2 separate regions of the Homo sapiens genome follow, and region 1 is linked to region 2. Evidence: fine-mapped QTL for protein levels in blood plasma. A gene starts in region 2. The other region holds a variant in brackets. All regions are shown on one strand. Distances are between the middles of the regions.

Region 1 (15,663 bases), 39 kb after region 2:
ATTCCTACCACATTACTGTGGTGGAGAGAACCACGTGAGCATGAACAAATTAGCTGAAAGTAGAGTCGAGACCAAAGCCCAGGTCTTGGCTCTACCTTTAGAACCTTGAATAAGTCACTTCATATCTCTGGACCTCAGTTGCCTCATCTGTTAATAAGGGACTTCAACCAGATGTCCTCCAAGGTGCTGTCCAGCACTGAGGAATGATAAATAGGCTGACATTCATACTTTACCCCATCAGCCCTTACCCATGCTAGGTGTCACTCATTGGTCCCAGCACTGTCCCATGGGGAATGTGGACTTAGCTCAGAATCCTTTTGAAAATAGTGCTCCAGGCTAGAAGCCATTATTCTCAGCAAACTAACGCAGGAACAGAAAACCAAATACTGCATGTCCTCACGTTAGAAATGGAAGCCGAATGATGAGAACACATGAACATATGGAGGGAAACAACACACACTGGGGCCTGTCAGAGGGTGGGAGGTAGGGGGAGGGGGAGCATCAGGCAGAACAGCTAATGGATGCTGGGCTTAATACCTAGGGATGGGATGATCTGTGCAGCAAACCACCATGACACGTTTACCTGTGTGACAAACCTGCACATCCTACACATGTACCCCGGAACTTAGAAGTTGGAGGGAAAAAAAAGAAAATAATGCTCCAGGCTGCCACCTGCGGCTGATGGGAGTCAGCACCCAATTTCCAATCTATTTATGATCTCTCCTTTTGCTTTTTGATAATCAGCCTTTGGATTTGGTTATGAAGATGTAAAGAGTGGTCTTTCACAGATGCAGAGAGATTAGATGTACAGTTATTATATTAGGGCTTTTTCTAATTATTAAAATAATATGGATTTACTGTAGAAAATATAGAAAAATACAAAGAAAGTTAAAAGCATCTAGCAAAACTCACCATTAAAATTTTGTCGCATTTTCTTCTGGTTACTTCTATTCATACACATATACATATTTATTCATTTTTAACAAAAGCAGGATAATGCTTTTATAAAACTTTTTTCTTACTCATGAGCATTTTCATGTATTATTAACTATTCATCAAAAACACACTTTTTGAAAGTCCTGGGGTGAAGAAAGTGGGAAGAAAAAAACAAAACTGAAAATGTTAGAAAGAGCCCTCACATCCTGTAGTTTCTGTTCAGACAGTAGCTGTCCCTGCCCTCCCCCTCTGCTGTCCCTAAGACCACCAGAGTAGAGTCCTCAGCCTCTGATTTCATGTAAGTTAAAGACCCATAAGTAGATTTAAAAGTGCATTATTGGCCGGGCACGGTGGCTCACGCCTGTAATCTCAGCACTTTGGGAGGCCGAGGTGGGCGGATCATGAGGTCAGGAGATCGAGATCATCCTGGCTAACACGGTGAAACCCCATCTCTACTAAAAATACAAAGGCCAGGAACGGTGGCTTACGCTTGTAATCCCAGCACTTTGGGAGGCCGAGGCAGGCGGATCACAAGGTCAGGAGATCGAGACCATCCTGGCTAACATGGTGAAACGCTGTCTCTACTAAAACTACAAAAAATTAGCTGGACGTGGTGGCGGGCACCTGTGGTCCCAGCTACTCGGGAGGCTGAGGCAGGAGAATGGCGTGAACCCGGGAGGTGGAGCTTGCAGTGAGCCAAGATCGCACCACTGCACTCCAGCCTGGGCGACAGAGCAAGACTCCGTCTCAAAAATAAAATAAAAAAATAAAAATAAAAATACAAAAAATTAGCCGGGCATGGTGGCGGGCACCTGTAGTCCCAGCTACTTAGGAGGCTGAGGCAGGAGAATGGTGTGAACCCAGGAGGCAGAGCTTTCAGTGAGCTGAGATTGCGCCACTGCACTCCAGCCTGAGCAACAGAGCGAGACTCCATCTCAAAAAAAAAAAAAAAAAAGTACATTGTTGTTCATGACACATGCCTGGGTTTTAAGAAGACCATCAGCTAGTACAATAAATATGAATGAGTTAAATTCACTGCTGCCTCCTTCCTGCACAGACATGTGGTGAGGACAAATAAGACTTAGCTCGGCTGGGCGCGGTGGCTCATGCTTGTAATCCCAGCACTTTGGGAGGCCGAGGCAGGCAAATCACGAGGTCAGTTCAAGACCAGCCTGGCCAACATGGTGAAACCCCATCTCTACTAAAAATACAAAAAATTAGCTGGGCGTAGTGTCAGGCACCTGTAATCCCAGCTACTCAGGAGGCTGAGGCAGGAGAATCACTTGAACCCAGGAGGCGGAGGTTGCAGTGAGCCAAGATTGCGCCACTGCACTCCAGCCCAGGTGACAGAGTGAGACTCAGTCTCAAAAAAAAAAAAAAAAAAGACTTAGCTCATGGAAGACTTGTTAACAAGATACTAAGATTAATACTAACAGTGTAGCATGCAAAGTAGTGAGATGTAGTTTTTCACCTATCACATTGACAATGATGAAGAATTATAATAATTAATGTTTCTAAGAGTAGAGAGAAACAAGTCTCACACTCTGCTGGTAGCAATGCAATTAGTACGTCCTTCCAGAGGCCAGTTTCTGAAGGCTTAAAACTATGTATATGATCGGGTGCAGCAGCTCACACCTGTAATCCCAGCACTTTGGAAGGCCAAGGCAGGTGGATTGCTTAAGGCCAGGAGTTCTAGACCAGCCCTAGCAACATGGCAAAACCCCATCTCTACAAAAACTACAGAAATCAGCTTGTGGTATTCACCTGTAATCCCAGCTACTTGAAAGGCTGAGGTGGGAGAATTGCTTGAGCTTGGGAGGTCGAGGCTGCAGTGAGCTGTAATCCCACCACTGTACTCCAGCCTGGGTGACAGAGTAAGACCTCATCTCTAAAACAAAACTATGTGTGCTTTGACCCAATTGTCCCACTTTTGGGGATTTATTCCACACAGGTTACTGAGGATAAAATGAAGGTATGTGCAGACATTCAGTTACACCAGCGAATGCATGCTCAGTACACTCTGAGCCACCGGGCAGGAGGAGCACAGAGCTCCAGTGTGGCCTGTGTTTGCTCAGCATGTAAAGGCACAATGGCTGGATTGTTGACCATGGTCATAGCCGTAGGGCCTGTTCTCTGTGTGGTCCATGTCATTCATTAACAATTCCACCCTCTTGTATCCAAGCTACCCCGAGGAAAGAAATCTGGTTTCCAGCCCTACAAAGGGCTAGAAAAGTGGTGCTACATCCACATTCACGTGGAATCTGCTTTTTGAAACTTGAGAATTCCTGGGCATGTTAAAGTATTTCTTCCGGATCATGCCTGCATGCTCTATGGCAGCTGGAAATGAAATGAAAACAGCTTCCATCCAGCTGCCAATTCCCTCTGTGAATGTGTCGCCATGCATAGTAAACATAATACATTCAGAAGAAAGGAAAAATGGTCTCCTAAGACATGTAACTCTTCCAGAAGGATCATTACCAAAAGTAACTATTTCCAGAAGCAAGTGATGTCATTGTTTTGTTTTGTTTCGATTCGCCACACTGGCTAGAGCCTGTGATTGGATGTGTGAAAGTGAAGCATTTCTCTATGGCGTTCCTTATGCTGAAATCTAGGAAAAATGAATCAGGCAGACTGGGAAATCATAGGGAATTCCTTCATGGAATGTAAACAGCAGAAATTCACATTTCAGTTACCCAGAAGGCAGGGCCAGGTTCCTGGGTAATCCTAGAGTCTGGGGCAACTGCGCCTTCTGAAGTCTCCCATGCACACTGCCCGCTGCCTGATACCTGATCCCTCCCTACATCACCATCTTCCTCTCCCCAGGGAATAAGGGCATTTAAGAAAATGCTGTTTAAAAAAATTTTTCTTAAAGAAAGAAAGTGCTCTTTAATTTTGACAACTGAAGATTCAGAAAGAATTTGCATAGTTTTTTACATGAACCCACCTGTGAGGTTAGGTCCCTTTTGCAAGTACAGTTAGCCAATTTCTCTACTGCATCCTTAATAAAGCTTTGTCCAGAACCTTCCTAAAAATCATTTAAAAGTGTGTGATTTTGCCTGGGTATGAGTAAATAAATATAGTATTGACTTGGTTCTTGGAGTAAAAAACTCGTATTTGCTAGTTGTGACCTTGAGAGCAGTATGGTTCAATGGAAAACTGCTTTGGATCAGTCCTGGGTTCTAATTCCAGCACCACCAATTACTAGCTACTAAGTAATCAACTTCTCTAAACTTCATTTCCTTACCTGTAAGAGGATAATAATCTCAGCTGGGCACGGTGGCTCATGCCTGTAATTCCAGCACTTTGGGAGGCCACGGCGGGTGGATCACCTGAGGTAGGGAGTTCGAGACCAGCCTGGCCAACACGGAGAAACCCCATCTCTACTAATAATACAAAAATTAGCCAGGCGTGGTGGTGCATGCCTACAATCCCAGCTTCTCGGGAGGCTGAGGCAGGAGAATCGCTTGAACCCAGGAGGTGGAGGTTGCAGTGAGCCGAGATTGCGCCAGTGCACTCCAGCCTGGGCAACAAGAGTGAAATTCTGTCTCAAAAAAAAAAAAAAAAAAAAGAGGATAATAATCTCTCATAATATGGCTACAAAGATTGCAGGAGATATTATATGTAAATATAATTGATGTCTCTCAGTAAATGTTAGTGCTGTTTGAATTTTTGCTAGAACATTCAAGTCCAGTGGTATTCGCTAGGAAACCAGGGTAAGAGAGCGCCAAGTGTATAAGGCAGTTAATTCAAATAAAAAATAGAAATAGTGCAGTAGTGTTTCCAGTACTGAGTTCCTTTAAGAATTAAGATGAGCAAGCTCTCATCTTCATTGGGAAGAAACAGTGAGGTGAACACTGTAAATGCAGTTATCTTATTTTTTTTATTGGGTGAAAGACAAACCAGTTAGTCCTCTGAAAAAAATCGGGAGTTGGTGAATTTTGGCACTTTGTTTTTATTCCTGGCTCATTTTTAATTTTATTTTTATTTTTATTTTATTTTATTTTATTTATTTTTTTAGATGGAGTCTCGTTCTCTTACCCAGGCTGGAATGCAGTGGCGCTGTCTGGGGTCACTGCAACCTCCACCTCCCAAATTCAAGCGATTCACCTGCCTCAGCCTCCCAAGTAGCTGAGATCACAAGCGTGTGCCGTCATTCCCAGCTAATTTTTGTATTTTTAGTAGAGATGGGGTTTCACCATGTTGGCTAGGCTGGTCTCGAACTCCTGACCTCAAGTGATCCACCTGCCTTGGCCTCCTAAAGTGCTGGGATTACAGGCGTGAGCCACCATGCCCAGGCCCTGGCTTATTATTTTTAAAAAGTAGGACTTGAGTTTCCCACCATGTGATCTTCCCACTTCCAAATTTATTATTGGAGAGAGAGATAAAGCAGAATGCATAGAAGTTCCTTTGCAAGCTAACCTGGCAGTACGGCATGGGGGAGGAGGAAAGGGATGAAGGGAGAAGTGCCACAAGTGGTTTTTAGGTAACTTAGCAGTTTGATTTCCAAGCTGTTTCAGGGCTGCTAGTTTTGTGTGTGCGGCTGCTGGATGGACTGTTTTGCATATCACTGATTTATATCTCTACAGAACAAATCTTGTGTTTCTTTTGGAGATCCACGAGCAACTGGCATTTGAAAAAATCAGGCATTATTGACTTTAAAACACAGTAATGTTTTCTATATCTCTACCAAGCAAAAGCTCAGGAACATTCACTGGAGTCTCTGTAGTAATCTAAACAAGGCTTACATTGAACCTTCAAAATGCTATTGAAAATATTCATATTTTTAGGTCAGGTGCTGTGGCTCACACCTGCAATTCCAGCACTTTGGGAGGTCAAGGCGGGAGGCTTGCTTGAGCTCAGGAGTTCAAGACCAGCCTGGGAAACATGGCAAAACCCCATCTCTACAAAAAAATAGAAAAATTAGTCAGGTGTGGTGATGCTTACCTGTAGTCCCAGTTAGTTGGGAGGCTGAGGTGGGAGGATCACTTGAGCCTGGGAAGTCGAGGCTGCAGTGAGCTGAGATTGCACCACTGCACTCTAGCCTGGGCAACAAAGGGAGACCCTGTCTCAAAAAAAAAAAAGAAAATAAAACATACTCATATTTTCAATATGGATATCAACACCATGAGATTTGCACCATAAAAGCAGTGGTTAAATATGTACCTATTAACTACCTCACCCCTGAGAAAAAGTGTAAAAATTACTTGCCACAAAAATTGCACTCTGGTCTGTCTACTAGCAGTAAAAATATAATAAAATAAAAAAGCTGCATGGTCTTATTTTTCTGTATTAAATAGTGCTTTCCTATGTCAGCAGATGTTTACAGTACTTCTAGTATAGCTTCCTAGGCCAGAATCATATATAATAAAATCTTTTTTTTTTTTCTTTTGAAAAGGAGTCTCTGTTGCCCAGGTTGGAGTGCGGTGGCATGATCTTGGCTCACTGCACCCTCCGCCTCCCAAGTTCAAGTGATTCTCCTGCCTCAGTTTCCCAAGTAGCTGGGATTACAGGCGCCCACCACCATGCCTGGCTAATTTTTTTTTTTTTTTTTTTTGAGACGGAGTCTTGCTCAGTCGCCCAGGCTGGAGTGCAGTGGCGCGATCTCGGCTCACTGCAAGCTCCGCCTCCAGGGTTCACGCCATTCTCCTGCCTCAGCCTCCCCAGCAGCTGGGACTACAGGCGCCCACCATGCCTGGCTAATTTTTTTTGTATTTTAAGTAGAGACAGGGTTTTGCCATGTTGGCCAGGCATGAGCCACTGCGTGCGGCCCTTATGTAATACAATCTTATAGAACTACCTGGCCTGGGATCAG[G/A]TATCATATAAGAGAATCCAGGTAGCTGGAGAGGTCCTTGGTGACCACTGTCGTGGCTACTGCAGTGAGTTGGACAGTAACAGAACTCTTTTTGCAGGGAAATCTGATCCTGCAGCCTATGAGCAATGGCTGTGCTTTCCTCATCTCTCTCCTTCTGTCTGAGCTCAGAGTTTATGGAGAAAGCCCAAATTATTGGCTGTATGTAGGACCAACATACATGGAACTTTCTAGAGTAACAAGACACAGTAGACTGTCCCCAAAGTGCCAGGATTATAGGCATGAGCCAGTGCACCTGGCCAACTTTGTGACTTAGTAAATTTGCAAAATGCAAGTTACCAAAGAATTTTATATACTACCTTTAAATAGTCTTATTTCATTTGCAGGAATTAGGAACATTTATGTTGATGCCATATGAGTAAAGAAGCTTTAAAAATTTTCTCAATAAAATTTGTCAGTAGATTATTTCTAATTCATTGCCATTAAGCATTGTAATACTCAAAAATCCCACTTAAGGCTGGGCATGGTGGCTCACGCCTGTCATCCCAGCACTTTGGGAGGCTGAGGTGAGCGGATCACTTGAGCCCATCTGGGGAACATGGCAAAACCCCGTCTCTACTAAAAATACAAAAATTAGCGAGGCATGGTGGCACGCACCTGTAATCCCAGCTACTCGGGAGGCTGAGGCAGGAGAATTGCTTGAACCCAGGAGGTGGACGTTGCAGTGAGCCAAGATCGTGCCACTGCACTCCAATCTGGGCAACAGAGACTCTGTCTCAAAAAAAAAAAAAAGTAAATAAATAATAATAATTTCCCCCTCAGTATTATAACTTAATAGTTAAGTAATATATCATTAAATTAGAAGTACTGGTCTCTACCAAGAAACCAGTTTGCATCCCAGCCCTGTGACCCACTTACTTGTGTGAACCTAGGTACGAACCTGACCCTGAGCCTAACCAGAAAGAAAATTGAGCTATTTATACCTGCCATCCAGAGTTGTGAGAAAGAGAAAGAGCATGTCTAAATGCCTTATATATGCCCATTGTTTATTCTTCAAAGAAAAACCTTTCTGGTTTCTGCTTTTCATGGCGTGATATCCGGAGACTCCCTGTGACTCTTCTAGCCTGAGATCTCCCTTCTCCAAGAGGCGTGGTGGTAGTTCGGTGCAGGGTGTGTCTTCCGCTCTCTCTGTCGGTGGTTTCGTATTAGCTGCGTACTTTGCTTTATTCAGTGGGTCACCTTAGTTATTTACTGCTTAACTATCAAACATAGGCCTTTGTTTAGTAGAGAAATAAACAGTTCTTCTCTAAGTCCATCTTAAAAAAAAATAAGGCTGTATTTTCACATTTGTTTCCTGAAGTTTCTGATGCATACACCTTCAATATATGTTCTCTTTCTTTTCTGCAGATAGTAGTTCCTCAGGGAAGAACAGAAAAGAGGAAAGTTATATATTTGAGTCAAAGGGTGATGGAGGAGGAGGGGAACACCCAGCCCCAGAAACAGGTAAATGTCCACCTTGGAAACCCTTTGCAGACTGTAGTCTTCTCAGAACTGCATGCCCTCTGGCTGAGGATATTCCCTGAGGCCATGAGAGCTCAGGACAGGAGGAGTCCGTCAGTGGACCGAAAGAACTGTCTCCTCGTTGCTTGTATTGCACTGCGTCTTGGGGCTCCTGATAGTAACCTTCCATCTTTGGACCTCAGCTGCCTTTTCTATACACCCTTCCAGGTGTGACACCTGTGGAAAATGTCATACTTGTGGCATGGTGGGAGAACACAAGCTTTAGAGTCAGATGCCACAATTCAAATCCTTGCTCAAAGCTGGGCACAGTGGCTCACGCCTGTAATCCCAGCACTTTGGGAGGCCAAGGCAGGAGGATCGCTTGAGCTCAGGAGTTCAAGACCGGCCTGGGCAATATGGCAAAATCCTGTCTCTACAAAAAATACAAAAATTAGCCAAGTGTGGTGACATTCGCCTGTAGTCCCAGGGAGGCTGAGGTGGGAGGATCACTTGAGCCTGGGAGGTCGAGGCTGCAGTGAGATAAGATTGTGCCACTGCACTCCAGCCTGGGTGACAGAGTGAGACCGTCTCAAAAAAAAAAAAAAAAAATTCTCACTTACCCACTAAACTGTATGACCTTGAGCAGGCTATCTTATCTCTCTGGATCTCAGTTTCCTCATTCGTAAGATGAGGATAGTAACAATACCTGCCTCATAGGGTTGCTGAGAAGAATATATGGGATAATTAATCTCAAGCATTGAATGCACTGTGTGGCTCATATGATGAGCCAAATATAGAAACGATGGCAGTTATTACTCAGTTATTTACGATGAAAGAAGAGTAAAGGTCTTAGAATACCTAGTTCTCTTTCCAAGTGCCCTAGTGACAAAGACAGAAAACAACAGAAATGAGGGAAGGGTGTAGGAAGTAGAATATTTACTAAGTGGAAGAAGAATACAATAATTTCTTTAATTTTGGTTGATTTTAACTAGGAAGAAAAGACTTTGGAAACCATCCTTTAGAAAGGCAGGCTTTAGTCTTAAATCCCACAAACTAGTAAAAGAAGCTTTAGAAGAACAAAATATAAGCTTAAGTTATAAACATTGAGAAAACTTTCTTTTTACCCTATTTATAATATCAGGACAATATTAAAATATAATGTTTAAACAATAGATAGCTAAGAATACTCCAGATGTCAAGTACCTGGGTGACCCCCTTGGTCTGCTGGCCTCCTGGACTTAGCCTGTCCCAAGATATTTGAATAAAAGGGGCCCTGTCCCCTATCAAGGGAAGAGGGAAACCAGCCTGCCTCTTGCCTCCCCACACATATGTATCCAGAGAGTCTCAGCTCTAGTTGGCTGTTGCCTATTCTGGTTGTTACATATTTTTGTTTTGTTTTGTTTTTGAGACATCGAGTCTCACTCTGTTGTCCAGGTTGGAGTACAGCGGCGCGATCTCAGCTCACTGCAGCCTCTGCTTCCCGGGTTCAAACGATTCCCCTGCCTCAGCCTCCCTAGTAGCTGGGATTACAGGTGCATGCCACCACACCTGGCTAATTTTTGTATTTTTAGCAGAGATGGGGTTTTGCCATGTTGGCCAGGCTGGTCTCAAAACTTCTGACCTCAAGTGATCCTCCTGCCTCAGCCTCCCACCATGCTGGGATTACAGGTGTGAACCACTGTGCCCAGCCTGTTACATATTTTAAATGTCACCCCCATTCATATGAACAGAATACATAATTCATCACCCTAGCTGGTTACTGAGAATAGCATCATGGTGTGTTTTAGAAGGAGCTAGAAAGTTGTAAATCTCAAATTATCCAAACTAAGCCAACTAAATATTAAAAGTCAAGAATAATTTTCAATATTCTGGCAAGTACTTTTGGGAGATTTCATTTTCCTTGTCATAAAAGCATTAAACAGGAATCAGATCAGACAGTTCAGCAGCCTCATATCTGACTTAGCAAATAGAACATTTTCCCAGATCTCGTCTGTTTTATTGTTACCATAGCTAAACCTGAGCCCCGGCATTGGGATTGGCATCTTCAACCACAGCTTCATAACCCTTTAGCCTAAATGCTGATGCTCATCTTTAAGCAAGTCCCCCGGACTGGGGCTGGGTGTTGCGGTCCAATTCATGAGAAATGATTTGGGGTTCCTGGGGTTTTCTGTGGGTATTGACCAAAGTCTCTTTTTTTGTCCTGTTCCTTTGTAACATATGCAACTTATAGGAAGGTGGAGGGAGAATGACACCTTGGGGCCACTTAGCCTTGTCAGAACTTCTTTCATCAGGTGGAGACTAGGAGGCAGTAGTAGCTACTGAAGCCCCAAACTGCTGGCATGGAGAGACCAGGCAGCCATCTTGACACCTCCAGAACTGCTGTGTATGGAATGAGACAGCCGTAGAATCCAATTCCAGTCCATAGGGTTATCACCGATTTGTATCTTTCACAATTCTCTGGAGGAATGCTGGCCTCTTCCAGAACTTTGTTTGATACCTAACAGTCTCTAAAGCAGCTTTCCCATCCCCTCCTCCGGCAACCAGACACTTTCAAACTGTTCTTGAGAATCTTGTTCAGGAGTTTTACCTGGGATTCTAAAAATACACCAGAGTTCAAGTGCCGTGAGTGTGTCATCAGCTCCAGGTCCTCTTGTCTTCAAGAGGCGGCCAGCTATACCTGGGACCAGTTTTAAGCCCAGTAAATCAAGACTGTCTGGAGTGAACTTCCTCAGCTACCTGCCCCCCAAATGTAAAAACTCATCTGGTTGCATTCACCCCTCTTCCTCCCCTCCAGTACTAAAGGAAGAGGTGTCGCCTCTTTCCAAGGTCTCTCCCTGATCTGGCTAAAGCCCCTGATTTCCTCAGGTTCATTTCTCATCATCTCCTAGCTCTCCCGTGTTTTTCATCTCTGTTTCTTTACTGGCTCATTCTCCTGACTGTGATCATGTTCAGATTTCTTAATGTGTAAAGAAACAAAGTAGCATCCTCCATCTTCTGTACTCCCATAAATGAATTACCAATTGCTAAATCCAGGGGGCTCTCCAGGCTTCACCTCACTTGACATTTCCTTAGCATTTGATTCAGCTGAGGACTTTCTTCTTGGACGTCTCTTTCCTCAGCTTCCAAAAGCCCACTCCCTACTATAGCGGTTGTCCTCCTATTTCTCTGACTGGTCTTCTTCTGTTTTTTTTTGGTCCTCTGCTTTTGTCTGCCCTCTAAATGCTGGTGTTTCCCAGGACCTCGTTCCTGGCTCACCTTTCTTCTTCCTTTCTCTCTGGCTGTCCTAACCCCTATTGTGACTGCAGCTACCACCTTTATGCTAAAGGCTCCCACATATTTAGGCCCAGCTAATCCAAAAGCCTAAGAGAAAATTCCACCTGATCGCTGATAGGCATCTCAATCTGAAAATGTCAAAAAATAAACTTACCTCCTTCAGCCACCCAACAGTCTCTATCATACATCAAAATCACTCAGGCAAAAATCCTACAGACCAGGTAGATGGACCACCTATTTTATTAATACAACTATGCTTCATCTATAATTCTATCATAGTAAGTATAACACTTTGTTGCATTTTTTCCCATTTAAATGTCTGTCTACCCAGACTTACTCGTTCAAAAACTGTCTCATTTACATTTTGTAGAAGTAGAGTACCATAGTGGATAGAACCACAGGCTCTGGGGCTGTCCTGTCTGGGGTTATTTGCTAGCTCTACCACTTAACAATCTTAGACAAGTCACTTCAGTCTTTTTTTTTTTTTTTTTTAAGACAGGATCTTACTTTGCCACCCAAGCTGGAGTACAGTTTAAGAGCTCACTGAAGCCTCTACCTCCCAGACTCAAGTGATCCTTCTGCTTTAGCCTCCCTAAGTATTGGGATTATAGGCATGAGCCACTGTGCCCAGCCTCACTTCTCTTTTTTTTTTTTGAGATAGGCCCTTACACTGTCACCCAGGCTGGAGTGCAGTAGCCTGATCATGGCTCATAACAGCCTCAACTTTCTGGGCTCAGGTGATTCTCCTACTTCAGCCTCCCGAGTAGCTGGGACTGCAGGTGCATGCCACAACTGGCTAATAATTTTTTGTAGAGACAAGGTCTCGCCATGTTGCCCAGGCTGGTCTCGAACTCCTGGGATCAAGCAATTTGCCCACCTCTGCCTTCCAAAGTGCTGGTATCACAGGCCTGAGCCACCGTGCCTGGCCCTCACTTCATTGTTGATGCCTTAGCTCCCTCATTTGTAAAATGGGGATAATAATAGCACCAACTTATGTGGTGGTTGTGAGAATTCAGTGATTTAAGCTATAAAGCTGGTATTCTTGGCCTTAGCTTATCTTGAGGGGGGTGGTATTTATTTACAAATAAAAGGATTATCAGCACTTAGCTCAGTGTCTGGCACATGGAAGAAGGCTTTTAATGAATGCAGAATGAATGAATAAATGAGAGCAAATGGTATAGAATGAGCCTACACAAAGGAGATGTTTCTCCTCTAGTTCTACCAGTTGGCAAGATCCCTACAGCTAAAAACAGTTCCACCATATAATCTCCAGACCTGGCCTGGCCACAGAGTAGATCAGACTAAAAATAGAGCCTGCTAAGCTTGATAAAAAAGACTGATATTGGCACACCCTGTCCTTCCAGACTCCTGCAAGCCTCGCTACTTCTACTCTGGTGTCTAGAATCCACCTCACAGGAAAAACTAAAGAAATGTTTTCCTTTAATGTCCAAAATCACACCAGCATATTTGGAAGTTAGTTTTCAACAAAGGTTCTACTGACTGAGTCAGTTCCCTGGATTTAGAAGGAAATAAATTTCTTAAGCCCTAACTAGAACAAGAAATCAGGAGTTAGTTCATACTTAGTTGAAGAATGATCATGTATGAATTCATAAATATAGTCAATGACTACAACAAAAAAATTTCGTGATCAGAATGCCTATTTCAGTTGGATATGAGTGATCAGATGGTAGTATGTGTACCCATTGATGCCATACAAATTTTGTAGGAAGCTGGTAGAGAATTTGGTTTTAAAGAGGTCTGTGTTGGCCGGGCACGGTGGCTCACGCCTGTAATCCCAGCACTTTGGGAGGCCGAGGCAGGTGGATCACGAGGTCAGAAGTTTGAGACCAGCCTGGCCAAGATGTTGAAACCCCATCTCTACTAAAAATACAAAATTTAGCTGGGCACAGTGGCAGGCACCTGTAATCCCAGCTACTCGGGAGGCTGAGGCAGGGGAATCGCTTGAACCCAGGAGGTAGAGGTTGCAGTGAGCCGAGATTGAGCCATTACACTCCAGCCTGGGCAACAGAGCAAGACTCCATCTCAAAAAAAAAAAAAAAAAAAAGTCTAGGTTTGGGACCTGAACCTACAACTTACAGCCTCCTAGGCAAATAAGCAAATTACTTAACCTTGGTACACCTTAGTTAATCTGCAAAATAGTGATAATACTAATAACAATTTGTTTGGATTAAATAAAATAGTGCATGCAAAGCGCGTATCATATAGTGACCAGTAGCTGTCACTGTGACTAATCACTGGCTTGCCCTCTTCATGTCTAACCTTCTCAAAGGTGCAGTGCTACCCCTGGCGCTGGGTTTGGCTATCACTGCTCTGCTGCTTCTCATGGTTGCATGCCGACTACGACTGGTGAAACAGAAACTGAAAAAAGCTCGTCCCATTACATCTGAGGAATCGGACTACCTCATAAATGGGATGTATCTATAGTAATGTAATTTCAATACCTTGGGGCAGGGACATGTTTTGTTTATAATTTATACATCTATTAAGTTCTGGATATTTACAGCTTCTTTTGTTTTTAATTGGGCCAGAAGATTCTGCAAATCCCAAATCTTTCTTTATTATTTATTGTAAAAAAAGTTTCCTTAGAAGTCATAAAATATTTTGAAATTTAGAGAGGAATTCATGATTAAAGATTCCTAAAAATATAATTCTGATTTATGTAAGCTGTCCCTGAAAATAGAAATGTGTACTTAGCTGAGAGAAAATTCAGCATCTCAGGAGGTGGTATTAGGATGACTGTGTTAACCCATTACCTTTTAGAAGCCAACTGTTGGCCCCTTACCATGCTGGACTGCTATAGGCCCAGCTTCCCCTTGTTCTGTGGCCCTTTTCTTCCTCCTTGAAGCTCCCAGTATTCTTTTTCTTTTCCCCTCTAAACCTGTTTCTGAGAGTGGATCTCAAGCAAGTTCATGCCTTCAATCAGATGTTACTTAGGGTGGGTATACCTAAATTATAAACCTTATGTACAAGTCAGTAAGCCTTAGGGAAGGTGAGTGTGGGTCCTTCCTAATCCCTCTGACGTCATGTCATATAGGTGGCTGCCTCCTTAGACTGACCTTTGGGAGAAAAAAACCCCAGACTTTGAATTAGTAACAGCTCTAAGATGGTCATGCAGTGAGATAGGAAATCAAGATGGAAGCAGAGAATCTGGCATGCCAAAAACTAACAGAAACTTAGTTGAAGGCAAAGAGAGCAAGGAGAACGTTTAATACTTCATTACATCAAATCAACACTGCTCCATGGTGAGAGCACAGCAACTCATTTATATATATATATATAGGCTTTGTTGATGAAAAACGACAATTGAAGAGAGGACGTTGAGTGGATTCCTGGGTACAGCTTTTGTAAAAATGTCACCATGGCTTTCATCCAATGGAATGAGTCGATGTTTTTTAATGCTATAAAATGTTAGAATGTGCCATCAGCTAATGCCAGGCTTACGTATTTCTAGACCATAAAGCAGTTTTTCACAAATTCATCTTTACAGAAAACCAGCATCTAGCTTAGCATCTTTCCCCTTTTAATTTGTAGGCTTTTAAAGGCAAATCATTCCCACCATCACTTAACGCCGGGATTATACACATTCTAGAAATGATTCTGAGAGGAGTGTATAGTATGGTGCCTATCTACACTCACATGATATTCTTATTCACGTTTTTTTTAACCATAAGTGGCAAATATTTTAAAATATTTGAAAAACACTCCAGAATCTAGTACGCTTTATTTTTAGACTGAACCTAAAGTAGGTTGTTCTTTTAACAAAGGGTTTAATTCGGGTGGGGAATATAACATATCAAAATACATGAACAAATGGAAAGTTACTTCTAGAAAAGCAAAGAAATTGGGTATCATTTTTGTTTCTTGGGAAGCTAATTTTGTTGAATGTTTAGAATTGAGCAAAGATGTAAATTTTTGAAGGGCAGTTTAGAAAAATTAACTTTGTGAATGAACTTAAGATGTCTGTACTCTATATGTGATGCTGTGCAGTTTGTTTTTATATGGAAAGATGTCAACTATAGCCATAACCAATAAAATAAAAACTGATGAGGCATGCAGCTTTCAGCACATCTTTTATACATGAAGAAATTAATTTTGTGTTGCTATGGTGTTGAAATATCCAAGAT
Region 2 (15,663 bases):
ATCAACATACAAAAATCAGTTGGATTTCAATACACTAACAATGTATTATCTAAAAAATAAATTAAGACACATTTATAATTGCATCAAAAAGCATAAAATACTTAGGAATAAATTTAACAAAGGAAGTAAAAGGTGTGTACACTGAAAAATATAGACATTGATGAAAGAAATTAAAGTAGACACAAATAAAAGGAAAGATATCCTGTGTTCATGGATTGGAAGAATTAATATTGTTCCAATGTCCATACTACACAAAATGTTTTACAGGTTCATTACAATCCCTATCAAAATTCCAGTGACATTTTTCACAGAAATAGAAAATACAATCGTAAAATTCAAATGGAACCACAAGGCTGGGCACAATAGCTTATGCCTGTAATCCCAGCACTTTGGGAGGCTGAGGTGGGCTGGTCACCTGAGGTCAGGAGTTCAAGACCAGCCTGGCCAACATGGTGAAACCCCGTCTCTACTAAAAATACAAAAATTAGCCAGGCGTTGTGGTGCACGCCTGTAGTCCCAGATACTCAGGAGGCTGAGGCAGGAGGATCACTTGAATCCAGGAGGCAGAGGTTGCAGTGATCTAAGATTATGCCATGAACTCCAGCCTAGGTGATAGAGCACGACTCCATCTCAAAAAAAAAAAAAAAAATGGAACCACAAATGAACTCAAATAGCCAAAGCAATCTGAGAAAGAAGAACAAAACTGGAGACATCACACTTCTTGATTTCAAATTATACTACAAAGCTATAGTAATCAAAACAGTATGGTACTGGCATCAATGCAGACATATAGACCAATAGTGGAACAGAACAGAGAGCCCAGAAATAACCCCACACATATATGGTCAACTAATTTTGACAAGGGTGTCAAGAATATGCAATAGGGAAAGGATAGTCTCTTCAGTCAATGGTATTGAGAATAAGTGGTAACCACATCCAAAGAATGAAATTGGACCTTTATCTTACAACCTATACAAAAGTTAACCCAAAATGTATTAAGATTTAAATGTAAGACCTGAAACTGAAACTACTAGAAGAAAACATAGGGAAAAAGCTTCTTAACATTGGTCTTGGTAATAATTTTCTTGATGTGACACCAGAAGCACACAAAAGCAAAAATAAACAGCTGGGACTGTATCAAACTAAAAAGCTTCCGCACAATAAAGGAAACAATCAACAGAGTGAAAAGACAACCCACAAAATGGGAGAAAATACTTGCAAACCATGTATCTGATAAAGAATTAATATCCAATGTTCGTCTTTAACACAGAAAGAACTCATATAACTCAATAGCAAAAACAAAAACAAAACCTGCTTTTCAAAAACTGGCAAAGGACACGAATAGACATTTTATTCAAAGAAAACCTACAAGTGGGTGACAAATACATAAAACGGTGCTCCACATTATTAATAATCGGAGAAATGCAAATCAAAATCACAATGAGATATCACCTTGCATCTGTTAAAGTGGTGTTATCATTTAAAAAAAAACACAAGAAATAACAAGTGTTGGTGAGTGTGTGGAGAAAAGAGAACCCTTGCACACTGTCAGTGGGAATGTAAATTGGTATAGCCATTATGGAAAACAGTACAAAAAAAAGTTCTATTAGAAACAGAGCTAACATATGACCCAGCAATCCCACTTCTAGGTATGTATCCAAACGAACTGAAAGCAGTATCTCCAAGAGATATCTGTACCCCCATGTTTATTGCAGCACTGTTCACAATAGCCAAGATATGGAAACAACCTAAGTGTTCACTGACAGGCCAATTAAGAAAATGTGATATAGATACACAGATAGATGTAGATACAGATAGATATGCAATGGAGTATTATACAGCCATAAAAAGGAGGAAATCCTGCCATTTGTGACAATATGGGTGAATCTGGAGAACATTAGGACATTATGCTACTTAAGTAAGCTAGACATCAACATAAAATATTATATGATTTTTCTTCATTTGGAATCTAAAAAGTCAAACTTAAGCAGAGAATAGAACGGTCATTGTCAGGGGCTGGGGGAGATGTTGCTCAAAGGGTCAAACTTTAAAGTTGGTCAAACTTTCAGTTATAAGATGTTAAGTTGGATCTAATGTACAGCATGGTGACTATAGTTAATAATACTGTATTGTTTACTTGAAATTTGCTAAAAGAGTAGACCTTAAGTACCCTCACCACACACACAACACACACAATGGTAACTGTGTGTGGTGATGGATATGTTCATTAATGTGATTGTGGTAATCATACACAATATATATGTACGTAAAATGGTCATGTCATATTTGTCAAATACATACAATTTTTTTTTTGAGGTGGAGTCTCACTCTGTTGCCCAGCTGGGGTACAGTGGCACCATCTCAGCTCACTGCAACCTGGGCCTCCCAGGTTCAAGCGATTCTCCTGCCTCAGCCTCCCGAGTAGCTGGGATTACAGGTGCCAGCCATTATGCTCAGCTATTTTTTTTTTTTTTTGTATTTTTAGTAGAGATGCGGGTTTCACTATGTTGGCCAGGCTGGTCTTGAACTCCTGACCTCGTGATTTGCCCGCCTCAGCCTCCCAAAGTGCTAGAATTACCGGCGTGAGCCACTGCTCCAGCCTACAATTTTTATTTGTCAGTTATACCTCAGTAATGCTGAAAAACGCAACAATAACAAAGCCAGGTGGGATAGAAAACAGGTTAGATGACAGAATGGAGATCTGCAAGCCTCACGATGTGATGAATCGATGAACTGAGAGGGGATGATCCCAGCTAACACTTAGGAGCCTTTAGCGCACTAGCCATTGTGCTAAGTGCTTTATGTGCTGTGTTTCACTTAATCCTCACCACACTTGTGGGAAGCAAGGTGAGGCAATTATTCCTATATTACGGCGGGGTGATCTGGTGCTTGAAGAGGGTAGGTGACTTGCCCAAAGTCACACAGCCAGCAGGTGTTTGACACTGCTGTCATAAGCCACACTCAACACTGTGCTGTACTAAGCAAGCTGAGTTGCCTGAGCTTCAATGGCATTTTAAAATTATTTAAAGGACTATCACTTGGGAGTAGGTGTAGGTTGCTCTGAGTGGTCCCAAGAGAAGGAACTGGGACAAATACTTGGAAGCTACAAAACAGATTGTAACTGAATATAAGGAAAACATTCTAATGAATAGTAAGAGTTGCCCAAAGATGGAAGGAGCTTTGGTGTGTGAAGGTGAAACTAGCTCAATTTCCCCCGAGAACTGATGTTTGCCATTTTTTTCCTATTAAAGCTAGAAATGGACCCTGCTTTTCTTAATGCTTAAAACTTACATTTGTCTTATCTGAATTCCTTTTTCAGGAAACCCTCCGACTTCCAGATAATATCGAGGAAGTAAAACTCACATCACCACATCCAGATAACGAGACACCAGACTCCTCTCCTTACTCCTCCATAATTCCTGTTTTCCTAACCAACCATCTGCTTCCCGTTGACCAATTGTTCTTCCTTACCCCTCCTTAATTCCTGTTTTCCTGTGGGTAGCTACACTCCTTCCCCACTATATACACCCCAATTTAAGTTGGTCGAAGATCTGAGACTTATCTCCACTTATCTTTATTTGGCAGCACCAAAGAAAGCCTTCTTCCCCCAAAAATACTTGATCCAGTGATTGGCTTTCTGTGCTGCAAGCAACAGGACCTAAACTGAACCCCTGGTGTTTCAGTAACAAAATATTGCATTCCCTACCTGTGAATTGGGGGTAATACTAGCACATGCTGCGTAATTGTTGTTTTAAGTAAATAAGTGACTGTGCAGAACTCAGAACGGTTCCTGGTAGTCGTAGCACAGTACTTTTTATAAGCGTTTCTTAAATTTAAAATGAAAATTAATGAACATGTTCAAGCAGACATGGGGCATTGCCTGAGTCAACGCAGAAGACAACTTCTCAGGATTTTCCCCAGTTACTACCACGTCCTTCCTCTAAGAACGGCCTCTCTTTCCATCCTCAATGAGGAGAGGGAAGGCCATGTTTGTAGCCCTGTTTGTGCCTCATGGTCTCTGCACACTAACCTCAGTTTAGGGTGGACACAGGACCAAGCTAGACTCATCAGAGTCTCTCTCTTGGTACTGATGGTCACTGTTCTGAGTTTCTGTTCATTGCTGCAGGTGAGGTGAGATAGACTCAGGCTCTGTGCATGGAGGGCAGAAAACTCCAGACTCTGAGAGAAGCATGAATCAGATGTGCAGAGAGAAGTGGAGATCTCAGACTACTTGGTCCCAGAAGAGAGAAGCAGCAACTGGGAGACCAGCTGCTTGACTGCTGAGGGTTCTGCCATGTCTGGTCCAGGCCCTCCCAAGGCCTGGCTGCATTTCCTCCCTGCCTGTGAGTGCATGTGTGTAAACACGGTAGCTATTTTTTCTTTAAACCAATCTAAAATGAGTTTCTGTTGTTTGCAATCCACAGAGATTTAACTAGGATGAACCTAGATCACTGAGCTGCAAGGCAAGAACTCCATGAGAGGAATTCCAGGTAGAAGGCCAAGTAGGTGCTCAGGGGAGAGATTTGAGACCAGAAAGTGTCAGGCAACTCCTGTCTTCACTCCCTCCCTCTCTCAAGGCTATGTATGCACTGTTCTCTATTTCCTCTTTTCACGGTTCCATTTGTCCCCCTCTGCTGAACAGCTTCTCTCTGCTATCATCCCCTTCCATGTCCCCTGGAGCTCACCTGGCTTCCCAGCTACACTTCCCTCCCTGACTCAATTTGTTGAGTCAGTTTGTTGAGTTGATTTGCTGAGTCAGTTTGTTTCTCAATTCTGTTTTTACATTCCTTGGAGAGAGTATCTGATTGGCTGTGCTTGGGCCAGGCATTCATTATTGATTCCATCCCTAGTGAACAGGGGGTGTGGCCACCTGGGGGTTGGGGCTGCCCCTTCCAGGGACGTGAGCAGAGCAGATTCCATGAAAGGGGTATGGAGAAGGAAGAATCTTAGTGCAACAGCCACTCAGCTGGGATGTTGTAGAGGAGATTCAGGCTTCAAGTGGTTTCATGACTTCTAATCTTAGGAAAGGTCCTTCATTTCTGTTGTAATAACAACAACAACTAGCATTTATTGAACTTCTATAATGTGTCAGATGCCCTTCTAAGCACTTCACATGCACTGACTTAACTTATTCGATGCCTGTAAAAGTACTTAGATGGGCAGTAGAGGGGAGGGGAGGGCAACAAAAAACGATGTCACTAGGGTGTTGCTGTAGATTGGATGTTTGTAACCCCCCAAAATTCCTATGTTGAAACCTAATGTGATGATGTTTGCAGTGGAGAATTTGGAAGATGATTAGGGCATGAAGGTGGAGCCCTCATGAATGGGATTAGTGTTCTTATAAAAAAGATCCCAGGCCAGGCACGGTGCCTCATGCCTGAAATCATAGCACTTTGGGAGGCTGAGGCAGCCAGATCATAAGGTCATGAGTTCGAGACCAGCCTGACCAACATGGTGAAACCCAGTCTCTACTAAAAATACAAAAATTAGCCAGGCGTGGTGGTGTGCGCCTGTAATCCCAGCCACTCAGGAGGCTGAGGCAGAAGAATCGTTTGAACCCAGGAGGCAGAGGTTGCAGTAAGCAGAGATTGTGCCTCTGAACTCCAGCCTGGGCAACAGAGCGAGACTTTGTCTCAAAAAAGAAAAGAAAAGAAAAGAAAAAAATCCCAGAGAGCTCCCTAACTCCTCCCACAAGGTGAGGACTCAGTGAGAAGACTGCTGTCTATGAACCAGGAAGTGGGCCCTCACCAGATATCAGCGTCTGCCAGCACCATGATCTTGAACTTCTCAGCCACTAGAATTGTGAGGAATAAATTTCTGTTGTTTAGAAGCCTCCCAGTCTGTGGTATTCTGTTACAGCAGCCCAGCTAAGACACAGGTTATCTCATTCCAACATTCAACAAACTGACCTACGAAGTCCAATCTCAATTTGATCCACTCTTACTCTTAATGATCTATCTTATAAAACAGAAACACATCTTCCTGACATTTTCATCCTCACATAAAAATTCTTCTATCCATTGATAAGGTTTTGATGTTTAGGCTTTTAAAACAAAGATAGTTTATTTCTGAAAAAAACTGAAAAGAGAACTAGAAAAAGAAGATAAATCACAATGCACAGTGCAATGAAACTTCGTTTTTAAAAAATAGCCTTATTAACATATAATTGACTATACCCACTTAAAATACACAATTTGATGAACTTTGATCAATGTATTCACCAGTGAAACCATCACCACAATCAAGGTAATGAACACACCTATCACCTGCAAAAGTTTTCATGTGCTTCTCTGTAATCCCTTCCCTTCCTACTCAAACTCATGCCTCTTGTCACAAGGTTTCTCCACTCTGGCTGTTGGGAACGAACTATTGCCTGGCCAATGCAAGCTCAGAAGTTTTTCTGCCAGCTTTTTTCTAGTGGTTGCCTCTCTGTCTTGGGAAGTTTCCTCACATGCATGTACCTGGTCGAACTTCTGCTGAAGACTCAGAGGAACCCTGCACAGATCTCCAGAGCTCCCTCCTTCCGTTGCACTCTCTCCTCTCTGGTACTCTAGCCACCCTGGCCTCCCTGAATTCTCAGCTCTATTTTCCAACTCAGAGTCTCTTTTGGTTCGCCTGTCTGCATTGCGGCTTGGAAACCCTCTCCAGGCAGTAAGCTGGAGCAAGCAGCATGTTCACTTCCTTTGTCTCCCTTCTCTTGGGCCCTGCATTGCCTGTTGCCCAATGTCTGAAAACCATTGTTCCATACATTTTTTTCACAGATTTTTCATTTCAGGTCACAGAGTAAGTCCAGTCCTTGTTGCTCCCTCCTGGCTGAAGCAGATGTCAACACTTATTTTTAAAAAATAGAAAATCATTTACAACAAGCTCATTGCAAAAAAAAAATTCAACAAAGTCTTATAAATTATAAAAGTCAGTATTTCCCCTTCAGTACTTGCAACTCACAGCCCAGAAATAACCACTGCTCACGGTAAACACAACATTAAATAATTTCCACTTCTCCCAAAAAGACCTATTGTAAAGTTGCAGATGCAGGAAAATCTTTGATGGTGCTGGAGGGATTTAGAAATGAATGCCCCTGAGAAATGCTGTCCTCTCCCCTGTCCACTTCCCTACCACGGAACATGTGAGCTAGGGCTCACTCTATACTGACTTCTCTTTCACGGTCCCAAAGGCAGGAGTGAGGTGGTCAAAGTCTCTGTGAAGGCACATAAAATCATGTATGTGAAAGTGTTTGGCAAACTTTGAAATCATGTACAATTCTTAGTTAATATTATATATTATCATGTTATTTTTAATATTAATAACTTATATAACAACTAGTCCTTGGAGGGTTTGATGATACCCTCAGTCAGCATTTTCATCACTAGTGAAAGTTTCTCCTCATAACAATCCTGCTCAAGCTCTCCAAGGTCTATGGCAAAAAATAAAAATAAAAAATAAAAAGCATTATGTTGCTTCAAGGTCATCTTACAATGACTGCAGTTGTGTGGGATGAGTATGCCATATGAGGAAGAATCTCCAGGCCGAAGTGGTACAGTCCAGACACAGCCTTTAGAGCTAAGAGGCCATTTCTTTTAGCCTCAAAAATCACTCAAATATACCCCTGCAAAAACTTTATAATTTCTCCCTTTGATGGAATGGCAAGTAACATTGAGCTTTTTTCTTTCTTTTCTATTGCTACCTTTTAATTTTACCTCCTACTCTGATCTGGATCTGCAAGCAATGGGTTCCTAAATGTCAACTCTGGAGATAATAAACACATAGCAGAGACTGATATTTTCCCACCAATTATTTATTCTTTCAATCCTAAAAAATACAGACACTTAACAGTGTTCTATTTACAATGTGCGCATCCAGGCAAAAATTTCCGGACAGGCTAAAAAGCAAGAAAATGCGATCCACAATCAGGAGAAAAATGAATCAACAGAAACTGATTCAGAAACAAACAAGATGCAGATGCTGCTCACAGAAGTCTAGAACGCCAAGGTGAAGCCCCCACTGGGTTGGACATTTTCTTATTCCTTATGTCATTTAAAGCACAACTCCCGAGATTTTACGTGATATAACCGCTAGAGGCCTCTCTGTCACAGGCTGTATTACTCCCAGGTCCCCATGTTGGCTGTGTTCAGATTTTTTGTTATATTTGTGGAAATCTGAGTGCATGTGACGACTGCTATTTATGGGTTTTGTTTTTATTTTTAAAGACAGGGTCTTGTTCTGTCCCCCAGGCTGGAGTACAGTGGTGTGATCACAGCTCATTGCAGTCTCGAACTCCTGGGTCCAAGCCATCCTCCCAACTCAGCCTCAGGACTTACAGGCGAGTACCACCTCACCAGGCTTGATTTTTGTGTTTTTAAACAGACTGAACATCTTTCAGTACTTCCCATCCCCACCCCTCCCGGCCCTGACTCCGCCACCCCAACCCCGCCCCACTTTGTACTACCCAAGCACATCTTGGGAACATGATGCGGAAAGTCAGGGACGCTGGAGGTGAAGGACTGATGACGCGCTACGGTGGTCCTAGGTGCGCGTGCCCCCTCTCTGGAGTAGTCCCGGGGGTCACGAGGATTTGAAGACAGGCCCTCCCTTCCCACTGCCCCCATTCCCCCGAATGCCAAGCCCCTGTGGGCAGGCGCCCTGGGCAGGTGTGGTTGGTTGCTAAAGCCTGCTGGGCCCAGACATGAACCCTGCCCTAGCTGGGCAGCGGCGCGGGAGCAAAGTTGTTCTGAGGCTGCCCTCCCCGGGGCCTGCTCTCCCAGCCCTGGAGGAGCCGGCGCGAGACGCGCGGGGGCGGGGCCGCGCGGGGGGGCGGGGCTCACCAAGGCTCCACCCCGCCGCGGCCACTGTTCGCACACACCTGGTGCTGATCAACGCCGAGGCCGACTCGTCGCCACCCAGCGCGCCGCAGGCCGGGGCGGAGAGGCGCAGGGCGCTGGGCAGTCTCCGGCGAGGGCAAGGAGCGGTGCCCGGCTGGGCCGGCTATGTCTCCCGCTACTGCGGTTCCCGCCGGCGCCCGCGACCTCGGGGGAGCAGCCGGGTTCGGGGGCGCCGCGCTGTGAGGCCGGGGCCTAGAGCCAGCCGCGGCCGCGCAGGAGGGGCCCAGGGCCCGCGCTCGCCCGCGTCCCCGCCTTCCTCCCGCGCTCAGCCCCGCCTCGGCTCGCTGCCCTTGGCTCTCGTCGCCATGGCCTCCGTCGCCCAGGAGAGCGCGGGCTCGCAGCGCCGGCTACCGCCGCGTCACGGGGCGCTGCGCGGGCTGCTACTGCTCTGCCTGTGGCTGCCAAGCGGCCGTGCGGCCTTGCCGCCCGCGGCGCCGCTGTCCGAACTGCACGCGCAGCTGTCGGGCGTGGAGCAGCTGCTGGAGGAGTTCCGCCGGCAACTGCAGCAGGAGCGGCCTCAGGAGGAGCTGGAGCTGGAGCTGCGCGCGGGCGGCGGCCCCCAGGAGGACTGCCCGGGCCCGGGCAGCGGCGGCTACAGCGCAATGCCTGACGCCATCATCCGCACCAAGGACTCCCTGGCGGCGGGTGCCAGCTTCCTGCGGGCGCCGGCGGCCGTGCGGGGCTGGCGGCAATGCGTGGCGGCCTGCTGCTCCGAGCCGCGCTGCTCCGTGGCCGTGGTGGAGCTGCCCCGGCGCCCCGCGCCCCCGGCAGCCGTGCTCGGCTGCTACCTCTTCAACTGCACGGCGCGCGGCCGCAACGTCTGCAAGTTCGCGCTGCACAGCGGCTACAGCAGCTACAGCCTCAGCCGCGCGCCGGACGGCGCCGCCCTGGCCACCGCGCGCGCCTCGCCCCGGCAGGGTAAGCGCGCGACTGAGGGGCCGGCCTTGGCCAGAGCGCTCGAGACCCGCAGCGCCCTCGCCAAGTTGGAAGCGAAACACACTCGTGCCAAGTTATTTTAGCCGCGGGCACCCAGAAGAGTTTCTGGCATGGGTTTCTCTGTCTTAGGGAAGAGGAAGCCCAGTAGTTTGGCAGAAGCGGGCGGGCGGGCGCGGTGACGTGCTACTGGAATTTTTCTAGGCTTGAAGAGAAAGGCTGATCTGAGAGGATTCGTGGAAATATGACTTAAAAGGGGAGAAATGCTGAGAGAAAAAAGTTTGTTTTAGTCTCATGGGTTGTATAAGGCATGGTTTGTGTTAAGTAATTGCAAGAGCAAAATCTAATTAGATGCCGGGCTTCTCGTAACACCCACTCCTTTTTCTTGACGTGGCTCTCCTGACTTTGCCTGCGGTGGCTTTCATCATACAAAAATGGGAGGAAAACTTCTGGTCCCTTTTATAAAAAGTGAAAAGAGGGGACTTGATTTTCGTTGAAAATAAGAAACTTTAAGGCCGGGCGTGGTGGCTTATGCCTGTAATCCCAGCACTTTGGGAGGCCGAGGAGGGCGGATCACCTGAGGTCAGGAGTTTGAGACCTGCCTGACCAATGTGATGAAACCCCATCTCTACTAAAAATACAAAAATTAGCCAGAGCTGGTGGCATGCGCCTGTAATCCCAGCTATTCGGGAGGCTGAGGCAGGAGAATCGCTTGAACCTAGGAGGCGGAGGTTGCAGTGAGCCGAGATCGCGCCATTGCACTCCAGCCTGGGCAACAAGAGCGAAACTCCATCTTAAAAAAAAAAAAAAAAAAAGGAAAAGAAAATAGGAAACTTTAAAGCGTGTTTCTTAAGGACTAAAAATGATGCTGATTCGACGGTTTGACTTTTTGTAGATGCTCTGAATGAGAGAATCAGGACACATACAGGAGGCACAAAAATGGTAGTGGTTGGACATGAATGTCACGGAGGGAATAAGAGACCTTGATTGTGCCCACGTGTGGTCAGGCTCCGTGTGTTTAATCATGCCCTGTTGCTGTTTGATTTATAATAGCACGAATGATATCAGCAAGATGGGGGCGGAGCTCAGCCCCTTTGGAAGTGTGGATTCTCCAAAACCTGTGGATCCATTGAAAGAGTCTGGAAATCTGTGTCCATCACATCCTGCCTCCCTCCCCACCTCTACCTTAGATGAGGCTCAGAATCCTTGTCAGGGGAGCAGATATCAAAGGGTCACCCTGCGACTGCTTGGCCTTGAGGCAAACACTGGGAAGGACTCCATAGCTTTCCTTCTGAAGTGGAGGCAGGCAGCACTTTCACTTGGACCCCCCATCAGCATCTCTGAGGCCCACCACGGCTGTTGCACACACATCCTCTCTGCCCAAACACAGACCAAAATATCCCAGCAGCAAAGAAACAAAGTCTTTTCTCTGTGTTCTCACTACTTACCTGGAAGAAACTGACATTGCCAAAGTGAGCTTTCCTATAAACCCAGAGGAAACCTTTGAAAAGGAAAATAAACAAGGAAAGAATATGCCATAGAACAAAAATTTTAAAGTTTAGATTACTTGGAGACGCCAGGCACGGTGGCTCATAACTAACCCCAGGACTTTGGGAGGCCAAGGCGGGTGAATCACTTGAGGCCAAGAGTTAGAGACCAGCCTGGCCAACATGACAAAACCCGTCTTTGCTAAAAAGAAATAAACACAAAAATTATCCTGGCATGGTGGCGCCTGTCTATGATCCCAGCTCCTCGGGCGGCTGAGGCAGGAGAATCGCTTGAACTGTGGTGGTGGAGGTCGCAGTGAGTACAGATTGCGCCACTGCACTCCAGCCTGGGCAACAGAGGGAGACACTGCCTCAGAAACAGAAACAAAAACTTCAGGTTACTATGAGAAGTTTCTGGGTTGTTTTTCCTCTTGCTTGCTTCGTTGCCCTTCCTTTCCCCAGGGGAGTTTGTCTAGGAATTGTTTTGTAGATGTTTGGGATGAAAATAGGCGAGCGCGGTGCTGGTCCTCATTTCTGGGAGAACACTGCTGTGCTCAGACTTCCTGAGGTCCCAGCAACATGGAAACGCGGAAGGTGCGGCTCAGGTTCCTGTAGAGGCTCATTTGTTCTCTCTGCGTGGAGGTCAAAAATTGTTCCCCAGTGTCCTGTGTGTCCCCTGCTCAGATGCTTGACAGGTTGAAGTTGTTTATGCTTCAGAGACTAAGTTTTTCCTTCTTGAATTGTTCGTTTTTGGGTTGTGAGCATGTGAAAATGGTTTAGAAGAGCCCTTGGAGAGGAGCTGTGACTGGATCCATCTGAGGTGGATGAAAGCACCATGAAGAAATGGTGATGGGATAGCACGAACTTACAGCAGGACACACCAGCCCTGTTTTCATGCCCACATTTGTTGACTTTGGTGTTAGGTGCTGTCCTCAGCCCTTTGCACGCATGAACTCACTCTGTCCTCACAACAACACAAAGGCCTAGGTTCTGTTATAATCCCTAGTGTATACAAGGCTTGGCAAGCGAAAGTAACCTGCCCAAGGGTCACACAGCATGGGGTTGTGGAGCCTGAACTCCTATGCTTTCTCCAGCAGCACCAGCAGAAGCTGAGAAAGGGATCACTAGGCTGGGACTGCGAGGGTAGAGGTAGGGAAGGCGGGAGGATGCAGGAATGAGTGAGAGATGCTGGAGAGAGGTGTCTTGTAGTGACTGAGCCTGCCTGCTAGAATCTGTAGAACAGAGGAGGGTGCTTGAAGTTCTGGGGCCTGGCGTCTCCACAAACAAGTCCCTGCTCATGCCCCCAGGACTTGGTGTCTGCTTGTCCTCCATCCCAGGCTGTCGTGAGGTTCAAGGGGGGACATGCTTTGTGAGTTAGGAAGGTGGCACGCATGTACATGATACTGTTCTAGGAACCTGGTTGGGTCATGCCCATGACTAGAGGGTTGGGGGACTGGATGTCATGATAAAAAGTGAAGAACAGCAGGAGGGAGGGAGGGAGGGAGGAGAGGTAGAAGCTAGAGCTGCTAGGATTCCAGAAGAGCAGGGAATATAACCTCCAAGGACTCAAGGACGATAACCTTTATGTGGTTTTTGCTGGATATTCAGCCTGAAGTCCAGTATCTCGGGGAAGAATTTGGGAAGTGGGCCCCTTGCCTTGTGTGTCAGGGAAAATCAAAGCTATTAGGCAGAGGTCTGCTCTCCTCTCTGCAGACCCACCTGCTGCCACCCCCAGCCTTTCCCTGTCTCCGCCAAGTGCAAACAAAAGAGTTGACCTTCCCATTCAAGGTTAATCCCTCTGCAGATGCTTGACCACTCTCCCTCTCCAAGGGCCTTACTTTCTCACATTCTTATCTTCTCCCTTTTGTGTTATAAACAATTATATTTAATAAATAATAGTAAGATAACTGGTTGGCAGTGTCAGGGAAAGTACATTTAGACCTACAACTCTGACCATACACAAATTCCAGATGGATTAAAGAATTAAATTTTTTTTAAATTAAGCCATAGATTACTCCATACATAAAAAAACTTAAAGGAAGTAAACTTCCATATCTGGAAGGAAGACAGGTTTCAAATCAATTAAAGAGGTCACAAAGAAAGGGGATAGATTATATGCACATTTATAAAAAACTTCATATCAAGAAACAAAAGGAATTGCAAACAAGAGTCTGGGAAAAATGTGACATTATTTATTCGTAGAGTTTATGGGCCAGGCACAGTGGCTCACACCTGTAATCCCAGCGCTTTGGGAGGCCAACGCAGGTGGATTGCTGGAGGCCAGGAGTTAGAAACCAGCCTGACAAACATGGTGAAACTCCATCTGTACTAAAAATAGAAAAATTAGCCTGGTTTGTTGACACACGCCTGTAGTCCTAGCTACTGGGGAGGCTGAGACATGAGAATAGCTTAAACCCTGGAGTCGGAGGTTACAGTAAGCTGAGATTGCAACACTGGACTCCAGCCTGGGCGACAGAGCAAGACTCGGTCAAAAAAAAAAAAAAAAAAATATATATATATATATATATGAGTCAGCAAGAAAAATAAAAATAAATGGGCAAAGGACATGAGCAGACACTTCCCAGAAGAGGAGGTATGGTGGATAAACATGGAAAAATGTTCGACCTTAGAATCAAAGAAATGTAAATAAGGCCAATTTTCATTTATTAACTTGGTAAAAATAGGTTTACTCATATTGGCATGCATATGGGAGACTTCATATACACTTCTGTGCTCACCGATGGTGTAAATTGCTACTTCCCTCTTGGAAACCAGTTGGGAAATATGTGGCAGAGACCATTAAAATATTCATTTCATACTTCTGGAATATTTTTTAGGAAAAGGAACCATGCTGAAGAGAACATATGAGCAAAAAAGTGTTTTACTCATATTGACATGCATATGGGAAACTTTATATACACTTCTAGCTCACTGATGGTGTAAATTGGTACTTCCCTCTTGGAAAGTAATTGGAAAATATGTGGCAGAAACCATTAAAATATTCATACTTCTGGAATATTTTTTAGGAAAATCATCTATGCTGAAGAGAACGTATGAGCAAAACATGTTTATTATGGCATTATTTATAATGGTGAAAAAGTAACAAAGTAAATGTCCAGTAGTACAGATTAGGAAACTCAAGTGGCAATTGTGAAGCTTAGGTTATCACATGGGCAGTGCTAAGATATATGAAGAAATATCAATAACAGGAATATACCAATAAGTTGATGGATTAAATTCAGGATGTAAAATTATATTTATTGTAACTGGAATACACCTAGGGTTGTCTCGAAGTATAGTGGAAGGATAGAACCTTTGAGTTAGAAATAACTGGGCTGCATTCCTGGGTATATATTCAAAGGATTATAAATCATGCTACTATAAAGACACATGCACATGTATGTTTATTGTGGCACTATTCACAATAGCAAAGACTTGGAACCAACCCAGATGTCCATTAATAATAGACTGGATTAAGAAAATGTGGCACATATACTCCATGGACTACTGTGCAGCCATAAAAAAAGGATGAGTTCATGTCCTTTGCAGGGACATGGGTGAAGCTGGAAACCATTCTCAGCAAACTATCACAAGGACAGAAAACCAAACACCGCATATTCTCACTCATAAGTGGGAGTTGAACAATGAGAACACACGGACACGGAGGAGAACATCACACACCAGGGCCTGTCGGGGTGGGGGTCAAGGGAAGGGATAGCATTAGGACAAATACCTAATGTAAATGACGAGTTGAAGGGGGCAGCAAACCAACATGGCACATGTATACCTATGTAACAAACCTGCACGTTGTGCACATGTACCTTAGAACTTTTAAGTATAATAATAAAAAAATAATTAAAAAGAAGTATCTGATCTGACAAATTTATCGCCTGTGTGATGTAACTTAGCCCTCTGAGCCTAGTTTCTGCATCAGTATTATGCAGATGATAATACCTACCTCAGAGATTCGTTGTGAAAGTTAAGTTCTTTCTATAACTTCACCTGGCCTGGTACCTGGTACAAGGAAATTGTAACCGCCCAATGGGTTCTCCTTGCCCACTGCCTACACAGAGCTGATTTATCAAGACAGGGGAATTGCAATAGAGAAAGAGTTTAATTCACAAGGAACTGGTTGTGCGGATAAAACACAAGACCAGATGAGCCAGTTTATCAACCTAGGTACTGCCAACGGGGTGCTGCCAACCATCGAGGACAGGGTCTATAAAATATCTCAAGCACTGAACTTAGGTTTTATAATAGTGATGCCTAAGCCATAATTTCTAATCTTGTGGCTTATTTGTTAGTTTTGCAAAGGCAGTCCAGTCCTCAGGCAAGAAAGGGGCTTATTTGGGGAAAGGGCTGTT

Which allele goes with the higher level. Alleles are on the strand shown, and positions count from the first base shown. The strength of an association depends on the size of the effect and on how common the allele is.
As copies of G replace A in region 1, the plasma level of the protein whose gene starts at base 8,846 in region 2 goes up (weak association).

The links. A credible set is the group of variants that fine-mapping cannot tell apart. PIP is the posterior inclusion probability: the model's chance that the variant is causal. The UK Biobank Pharma Proteomics Project read protein levels with antibody pairs (Olink). The fine-mapping took linkage between variants from a reference panel, not from the people measured, so its PIPs are less certain.
Region 1: its variant is the best candidate, but not a certain one, in a credible set for the plasma level of the LRP11 protein (UK Biobank, PIP 0.65).

The regions. Positions count from the first base shown.
Region 1 is chr6:149,818,849-149,834,511 of GRCh38, reverse strand. LRP11 (LDL receptor related protein 11) reads left to right here. Exons shown (of 7, transcript NM_032832.6): 6 at 8,153-8,248; 7 at 13,809-15,663. The coding sequence ends at 13,963. It overlaps RAET1E-LRP11 (RAET1E-LRP11 readthrough), which reads left to right. Exons shown (of 15, transcript NR_182438.1): 14 at 8,153-8,248; 15 at 13,809-15,663. Among named protein-coding and RNA genes, the nearest start is that of RAET1E-AS1, 37 kb to the left of the region's middle. The variant G/A (reference allele first, on the strand shown) is at 6,749.
Region 2 is chr6:149,857,542-149,873,204 of GRCh38, reverse strand. It overlaps LRP11 (LDL receptor related protein 11), which reads left to right and starts at 8,846. Exons shown (of 7, transcript NM_032832.6): 1 at 8,846-9,797. The coding sequence starts at 9,185. RAET1E-LRP11 (RAET1E-LRP11 readthrough) reads left to right here. Exons shown (of 15, transcript NR_182438.1): 6 at 3,320-4,343; 7 at 4,425-4,502; 8 at 7,861-7,989; 9 at 8,208-8,320. RAET1E-AS1 (RAET1E antisense RNA 1) reads right to left here and starts at 9,707. Exons shown (of 2, transcript NR_045126.1): 1 at 8,823-9,707. RefSeq lists an enhancer at 8,535-9,035 and silencers at 8,692-9,141, 9,212-9,271, 9,412-9,521, 9,692-9,841.